Homo sapiens: one gene and its partner. The protein of the gene in region 1 purifies or fractionates together with the protein of each later gene. This does not show direct contact. Each region holds a gene or a part of one and is shown in the gene's direction. Other genes may lie near its edges.

Evidence for each region.
Region 2: the proteins of DNAJC28 (region 1) and ANKRD52 purify together in Homo sapiens (affinity purification with mass spectrometry, with the first as the bait; one large-scale study listed by BioGRID). This does not show direct contact.

Annotation. Positions count from the first base shown.
Region 1 is NC_000021.9:33,488,753-33,493,361, reverse strand, and holds the start of DNAJC28 (dnaJ homolog subfamily C member 28), read left to right. Parts: upstream 1-1,645; 5' UTR 1,646-1,760; intron 1,761-1,960; exon of another isoform or gene 1,961-2,296; intron 2,297-3,937; 5' UTR 3,938-3,968; coding exon 3,969-4,609.
Region 2 is NC_000012.12:56,251,840-56,255,648, reverse strand, and holds part of ANKRD52 (serine/threonine-protein phosphatase 6 regulatory ankyrin repeat subunit C), read left to right. Parts: intron 1-696; coding exon 697-784; intron 785-928; coding exon 929-1,071; intron 1,072-1,369; coding exon 1,370-1,582; intron 1,583-1,848; coding exon 1,849-1,927; intron 1,928-2,246; coding exon 2,247-2,361; intron 2,362-2,562; coding exon 2,563-2,645; intron 2,646-2,751; coding exon 2,752-2,869; intron 2,870-3,078; coding exon 3,079-3,147; intron 3,148-3,333; coding exon 3,334-3,474; intron 3,475-3,553; coding exon 3,554-3,634; intron 3,635-3,809. UniProt on the Homo sapiens protein: Putative regulatory subunit of protein phosphatase 6 (PP6) that may be involved in the recognition of phosphoprotein substrates.

The DNA of each region.
Region 1 (4,609 bases):
AGCCTCCCAAAGTGCTGAGATTACAGGCGTGAGCACTGCGTCTGGCCTTATTTTTCTTTTTAAAAATTTTTTAGTGGCCAGGTCTTTTTTTTTTTAGACGGAGTCTGGCTCTGTCGCCCAGGCTGGAGTGCAGTGGCACGATCTAGGCTCACTGCAAGCTCCGCCTCCCGGGTTCACGCCATTCTCCTGCCTCAGACTCCCGAGCAGGTGGGACTACAGGCGCCCGCCACCACACCTGGCTAATTTTTTGTATTTTTAGTAGAGACGGGGTTTCACCGTGTTAGCCAGGATGGTCTCGATCTCCTGACCTCGTGATCCGCCCGCCTCGGCCTCCCAAAGTGCTGGGATTACAGGCGTGAGCACCGCGCCCGGCCAGAAATCCTATTTTCTTTCACATGAGTTATTTTGTTGATTGTTTGCTTATAACTAAAGCCCTCAGAATCAGAGTTTATACTGTATCTTTTTCTGTGTTCCTACATAGATGGCAATAAATGATTCTAATGTTTATGATGTAGAAGCTGAGGAGGCTAATACCTATTTCTGGCTCCTTTTAGGAGACACAGTCATAACAAAAAATATTGCTTAATGTGCGAGGCACAGTGCCAAGTGGTTTACATACATTGTGTAATTCTCCCCCTAAAAAAGTCAATGAAGTTGATACAATTATTATTTCATTATATGTAAAATAGGGAAAATAACAGCATTTATCTCAGAGGGCTGTTGTAAAGATTAAATGAATGCCTGTAATCCCAGCACTTTGAAAGGCCGAGGCAGGCAGATCACCTTAGCTCAGGGGTTCGAGACCAGCCTGGCCAACATGGTGAAACCTGGTCTCCACTAAAAATACAAAAAAATTAGCTGGGCATGGTGGTGCGCGCCTGTAATTCCAGCTACTCGGGAGGCTGAGGCAGGAGAATAGCTTAAACCCGGGAGGTGGAGGTTGCAGCGAGCCGAGATCGCGCCACCACACTCCAGCCTGGGCGACAGAGCGAGACTCTGTCTCAAAAAAAAAAAAAAAAAAGTAAATGAGAATATACATAAAGCACTTAGCACAATGGCATACTATTTACTATAGTTTACTATTTATTGCAACTCTCATTTTGCAGGTATCTTGCCTAAGGTGCAAGCAGAAGAAACAGGATTTTCAACCCAGATCTGAAAACTCCCAAGCCTCTGCCTTTTTCTTTTTATCCTTTTTCTTTTTCCTTGTTAAAAAACTTGCTTCCTGTACAGAGAGGGGAAATGCTCAGTCCCCACGTCAGTGGTTGAACTCCAAGCCAGAAGATCCCTATTTTGATTTTGTCCTCTGGCCTGTCGCCAGCCCCTCAACAGTACTTGAATTAATAAAAGGGCAGGTTTTAAGCCTCATGTATCTGCGCAGGTGACTCCTTCTGTGACCCCGAATAAACCTGTTCCGGTCCCGTTCCGGGGAAACAGCCTTGCCTTCCCCTGCCCCCAGAAAGTTACCCTCGCCCTCCGAGCCACAACTCCCCACGCCGCCAACTCGGTCTTTACATCATTTTCGACGCCCCCTAAGTCCCTCCCGAGAGGCGCAGGCGCACATCGCCCCTTCTAGCGAACTACATCTCCCACAATCCCAATCGGCCGGACCACCTCCGCTCGGGGCGGGGACGGAGGTGGAGCTGGTGGTCCCCGGTCGGGACGAAGGCTCCCGAGGTGCCCTGCCTGGGTCCTCCGGGGTAAAGTTCGTTTGGCGGAAGATTGTCCGTTTTCCTGGTAAGGTCACCTGTCCCAATCAGGTACGATTCTGCCTTCCGTACCCCCGAGCCCCTCAGTGTAAAGTGGCAAATGGTCTAGCCCGGCGGAGGCACCAGCTGGAGGCGGTGGGAGGGACACCCGCAGTGAAGGGCGGACCGCGCACGCATGCGCAGAGGCGCGGCAGGGGGGCGGGAGCCGCGGAACCCCTACCCCAGGTCTGCGCAGGTGAGGAGGGGGCGGGGCAGGACCGACCTCCCTTGCCATGATAACCACCTTCGCAGCCGGCTCCCAGACCGTTGGCACCGATTGCCTAGAAAATAGGGGGTCTCAGGAGCTCCGTTTTAGCGTTTATATATCCCAATTCCAATTAAGCCACTTCCAGTATTTTTTGGCCATTGTCAGTGTACAAGTCTTCCTCCTCTTCGAGACCATGTTATTGCAATAGCAGCAAACGTGTTGGGAGGCCTCACAATTCATCATGGTTTTTCTGGCCTCTGGCAGATAGCTCCTTCCTAGCGAGCTGTGGAGCTTAAAGTCTTTTGGACACTTGATTCTATTCAATCCAGTATCAGACCAGGTACGTACCTTGTCCATAAGTCGTCTTATGAGAAGACTTCTTGAGATGATGCAGACTCTCGTGCAGTTTATAATCGGCTGGAGGTATAGACAGTTAAGCAAGCCTCCTTTTTTACTGTGCCCACCCCTAACCATTTTGCTTACACCTTGTTATGGGACTTGGTTAAATTGCTTAACCTTCCGGACCTACGTTTTCTCATTAAATGAGAAGATTGGATTAGATGATCTCTAAGAACTTTCCACTTGTAAAATATACGGTTAGTTAGTGAGGGGTAGAATCCAGATTCTATCTATCTATATTTTTTTGAGACAGAGTCTCACTCTGTTGCCCAGGCTGGAGTGCAGTGGCACGATCTCGGTTCACTGCAACCTCCACCTCCCGGGTTCAAGCGATTCTCTTGCCTCAGCCTCCCGAGTAGCTGGGACTGCAACCTCCAGTTAATTTTTGTATTTTTAGTAGAGACAGGGTTTTGCCATGTTAGCCAGGCTGATCTCGAACTCCTGACCTCAGGTGATCCACCCACCTCGGCCTCCTAAAGTACTGGGATTACAGGCGTGTGCCACCGTGCCTGGCCCCACAATATGTTAACACTAAACTTCATCAGCTTCCACTTTTCTGCCCACATCAGTGAAATATAGCTATAAGAATGCAGCTGGTGGGGCTGGGTGCGGTGGCTCACGCCTGTAATCCCAGCACTTTGGGAGGTCGAGGCGGGCAGATCACAGGGTCAGGAGATCGAGACCATCCTGGCTAACACGGTGAAACGCCGTCTCTACTAAAAATACAAAAATTAGCCAGGAGTGGTGTCGTGCACCTGTAATCCCAGCTACTTGGGAGGCTGAGGCAGGAGAATCGCTTGAACCCGGGAGGCAGAGGTTGCAGTGAGCCGAGATCATGCCATTGCACTCCAGCCTGGGTGAGACTCTGTCTCAAAAAAAAAAAAAAGAAAAGAAAAGAAAAGAAAAAAGAATGTGGCTGGGCACAGTGGCTCACCCCTATAATCCCAGCACTTTGGGAGGCAGAAACTGGCAGATCGTTTGAGCTCAGGAGTTGGAGACCAGGGTGGGCAACATGACGAAACCCCATCCCTACAAAAATACAGAAATTAGCCAGGTGTGGTGGTGCACGCCTGTAGTCCTAGCAACATGAGAGGCAGAGGTGGGAGGATCACTTCAGCCCAGGAGGTTGATGCTGCAGTGAGCCACGATTGTGCCACTGCACTCCAGCATGGGCAACAGAGCAAGACCCTGTCTCAGACAAAAAAAAAAAAAAAAAAGGCTGAGCGCAGTGGCTCATACCTGTAATCCCAGCACTTTGGGAGGCCGAGGCGGGCAGATAACCATGTCAGGATATCCAGACCAGCCTGGGCGATATGGTGAAACCCCTTCTCTACTAAAAATACAAAAAAATTAGCTAGGCGTGGCTCTGGAGGTGGAGGCACCACTGCACTCCAGCCTGGGTGACAGAGCGAGACTCTGTCTCAAAAAAAAAAAAAAAAGGAAAAAGTTGACAGCAGCATTCAAAAGAACTGCCCCTTGTTGTACTTATAAATTCATGCTGTATCTTTTACCTTATTGCTGAAAATAAGAAATTAACTGATAATACAACTTTGTTCAACCTATATTTGTTGTCGTTTTATAGGTCATTGCTAGGAAGAACTCTGGGTACAATAATGAATACAATGTATGTGATGATGGCTCAGATCTTAAGATCTCACCTGATAAAGGCTACAGTGATTCCTAATCGAGTGAAAATGCTTCCATATTTTGGTATCATTAGAAATAGAATGATGTCAACCCATAAATCCAAAAAGAAGATCAGAGAATATTATAGACTGCTGAACGTGGAGGAAGGATGCTCTGCAGATGAAGTCAGGGAATCTTTTCATAAGCTTGCCAAGCAATATCATCCTGACAGTGGCTCTAATACTGCTGATTCTGCAACATTTATAAGGATTGAAAAAGCTTATAGAAAGGTGCTCTCCCATGTGATAGAACAAACAAATGCCAGTCAGAGTAAAGGTGAAGAAGAAGAAGATGTAGAAAAATTCAAATATAAAACACCCCAACACCGACATTATTTAAGTTTTGAAGGTATTGGTTTTGGGACTCCAACTCAACGAGAGAAGCATTATAGGCAATTTAGGGCAGACCGTGCTGCTGAACAAGTGATGGAATATCAAAAGCAGAAACTACAAAGCCAGTATTTTCCTGATAGTGTAATTGTTAAAAATATAAGACAGAGCAAACAGCAAAAGATAACGCAAGCTATAGAACGTTTAGTGGAGGACCTCATTCAAGAATCCATGGCAAA
Region 2 (3,809 bases), on another chromosome or scaffold:
ACTAAATGAATGGTCAGACTAGATTAAAATTCTTAACTTGGACTTCAGGAGGTTGATAAAACCTTGGATTTTGCGTGGAAAATATTTGCATACACGCCTTTCTGAAGAGAGTCCATGTCTTTCAGCACATTTGCAAAGACTTACAAGAGTTTAAGAACCGGCCGGGCACGGCGGCTCACGCCTGTAATCCCAGCACTTTGGGAGGCGAAGGCGGGTGGATCATGAGATCAGGAGATCGAGATCATCCTGGCTAACATGGTGAAACCCTGTCTCTACTAAAAATACAAAAAATTAGCCGGGTGTGGTGGCGGCCGCCTGTAGTCCCAGCTACTCGGGAGACTGAGGCAGGAGAATGGCGTGAACCCGGGAGGCGGAGCTTGCAATGAGCCGAAATCATGCCACTGAACTCCAGCCTGGGTAACAGAGCGAGACTGTCTCAAAAAAAAAAAAAAAAAGAGTTTAAGAACCACCAGATCACCTGAAGAGACTCTCTTGTTTCCCTTAAAGTTCCAAATCTCTCCAGTATCTCCTCCTTAGTGCCTGCTTCTGCTGTTCCCTCGAGTCCTCCAGGTTGTTTTGCTCATGGAAAAAGGCATTAGGCTGCCTCAGCCTTTTCAGGAGATGAGGCCTCTGCTCTTAGGTAGGTTGAGGGCACGAATCTAGCTCTGAACAGGTGTCTTTCATATCCTGATGCAGACGGTGAACCTGCTCCTCAACAAGGGAGCCAGCCTGAATGTCTGTGACAAAAAGGAGCGGCAGCCTCTGCATTGGGCAGCTTTTCTAGGTGAGAGAGAATACACGGGAAAATCAGAAATTTGACATTTAGGATTCCTAGGGCAGGGATGTGGGGTTGCAGCCTTTGAAGAGAGGAGTGTAGGGTCTTAGAGTTTACCTTCTACTTCCTTTAGAGTGTCTTCTCTTTTCTCAGGGCACTTGGAGGTCCTAAAACTGCTGGTGGCACGGGGAGCAGACCTCGGCTGCAAGGACCGCAAGGGCTATGGGCTGCTCCATACAGCTGCTGCCAGTGGCCAGATTGAAGTGGTGAAGTACCTGCTTCGGATGGGAGCGGAGGTCAGGGCTTTGAGCTCTGGGGTTGGGAACTATGGGCAGCAAGTAGGAGATTATAGTCTGTTACGGAGATATGAGGTATTGGGATGTTGGTATAGTTTTGGGAAGTTGGAAGGACGTGGTAGAGAGGGTCTGAATAATGCTTACCTTAGCCATAGTGCCCTTAGTACCTTAGTACCTTGGGTCATAAACCCGAGAGGAAATGAGGCAGTCGTTGGATTTCTGGGATCTGGAGGCTACATGTGCTGGCTTCTACTTTGTTTAAACTGATACCACCTTACTCTCACCCCTGAATATCCAGATCGATGAACCCAATGCTTTTGGAAACACAGCTTTGCACATCGCCTGCTACCTGGGCCAGGATGCTGTGGCTATTGAGCTGGTGAATGCCGGAGCCAATGTCAACCAGCCGAATGACAAGGGCTTCACGCCACTGCATGTGGCTGCAGTCTCCACCAATGGCGCTCTCTGCTTGGAGCTACTGGTTAATAATGGGGCTGACGTCAACTACCAGGTGCCTGAAGGGATAAGGCTTAGACCAGTGGGGAGCGAAACTTGGATCTAGGGGTCCTGACTGTATCTGGATAGCTCTCTTGGGGAATTATCCACTTGCTTCCTAGGGTAATCAGACCTTGCCAGGGACTCAGGAAAGAGTGGGCTAAGAAGGTGCCATATGACCCTTTTGTCCTTAGAGATATGTCCTTGGAAGGGAGGTAGGGCATTCTCTGTGCTTTGCACTGGAAAAAAAAACAAAAACAAAAACCCACCATGTTTCCACAGAGCAAAGAAGGGAAAAGTCCTCTGCACATGGCTGCAATCCATGGCCGTTTCACACGCTCCCAGATCCTCATCCAGAATGGTATGGACCTGGGAGACTTTGTGCTCTCATCCCCTCCTCCCCCAAGGAACTCATTTCTAGAATCTAGGGAGGTTCCTAACTTCCTTCTCCTGCCCTCTTCCAGTAGGATAGGCCCTTGGAACTCTGACCAAGGGACCTGTGGAAATGGCCCTGCTCTGCCCTGCCCAGTCTCCTAAGGCCTAGAAACAGGATAAAATATGTAGAATCCTGGGCCTGGCACCTGATGCATACATAGTAGGCACTCAAATCATGGCTAGCTCGCGAAAGTGGTCTTAAGCCTGAGGTCTGCCTGAGCTTGTGTGTGTGCATCCCCTCACAGGCAGCGAGATTGATTGTGCCGACAAATTTGGGAACACGCCACTGCATGTGGCTGCTCGATATGGACACGAGCTGCTCATCAGCACCCTCATGACCAATGGCGCAGATACCGCCCGGTGAGTCAGGGCCCCGACTCCACTTCTGGGCTGCCCAGATCTGCACAGACTGCTCACATCAACCATGGAGGCACAGATAAGCTTGCCAAAGGGCACCTTGGAGAACCTCCTACCCTGACTCTAGGGTGGTGGTAGGTCACAGAAGAGGTCTTACTTGGTCCCTCCTTGACCCAAGGACTGAGTCCCTCAACTTCTCTCTAGGCGTGGCATCCATGACATGTTCCCCCTGCACTTAGCTGTTCTCTTTGGATTCTCTGACTGTTGTCGTAAGCTTCTTTCCTCAGGTATGTGCTGATGGGCTGGGGATTGGCAGGTGTATAGGAGAGCAAAGGCCTTTCCCTCCCTGCTGAACACTCTCAGATGTGACCTGTGGCTGTTCTGTGCCTCCAGGTCAGTTGTACAGCATTGTGTCTTCACTCAGCAATGAGCATGTGCTTTCAGCTGGGTTTGACATCAATACACCTGACAACCTTGGCCGTACCTGTCTTCATGCTGCTGCTTCCGGAGGGTGAGTTCTCTTTCTCTCTCCCATGCTTTGAGCAGGGAGCTGGGCAAAGGTCTGGGCCCCTCATTCTTGCCTGCCCAGATCTATTCCCCCTCTCACAATGAAAGCAGTCACAGCAGAAAGGGCTTGCTAGTCCCATCCTTCCTTAGCCCCACCCTGGGCCTGTGGCTTCCCTTTGAGGCTGTAACTCTCTTAACACATCTTTCTTTTAGGAATGTTGAATGTCTTAATTTGCTGTTGAGCAGTGGAGCTGACTTGAGGAGGAGGGACAAATTTGGCAGGTATGCTAATATGCAGGGGTAAACATAGGGAATATCTGATTAGAGAAACAAATGGTAGAGGGAGGAAGGGTTTAGATTGGAGACTTAAATAAGGAGAATGTTACAAAGCAGCATTTGGCTGCACATCTGATTGCATTCGTATCTGTCTCTGATTCTCTTCCCCACCCTCCTTCACTTCTTCCCCAGGACCCCACTGCACTATGCAGCTGCTAACGGTAGCTACCAGTGTGCAGTAACATTGGTGACTGCTGGGGCAGGTGTCAACGAGGCCGACTGTAAAGGCTGCTCTCCCCTCCACTACGCTGCCGCTTCTGACACTTACAGGAGGTGAGGCTACCAGTCTGGTCCTTCTCAGCCCCATTCACCTCCCTGAGCCTGGCCCTAACTTTCTCTCTCTCTTCCCCAGAGCGGAACCCCATACACCTTCCAGCCATGATGCCGAAGAGGACGAGCCACTGAAGGAGTCCCGCAGGAAGGAGGCCTTCTTGTGAGTAGCAGAGAGGGCCCCTGGGATGTGCTTTCCCCAACCCATGCAAGCTCTGGCCCTACTGTCCTCCTACCTAATCTGAACCTCTACCCTATACTGCTGCTGTCCTGCCGGTCAGCCAGCAGTGTGTCTTGAGCCCTCTGGGTGTAGTCCATAGTGGGCAAAGACAAAAGTA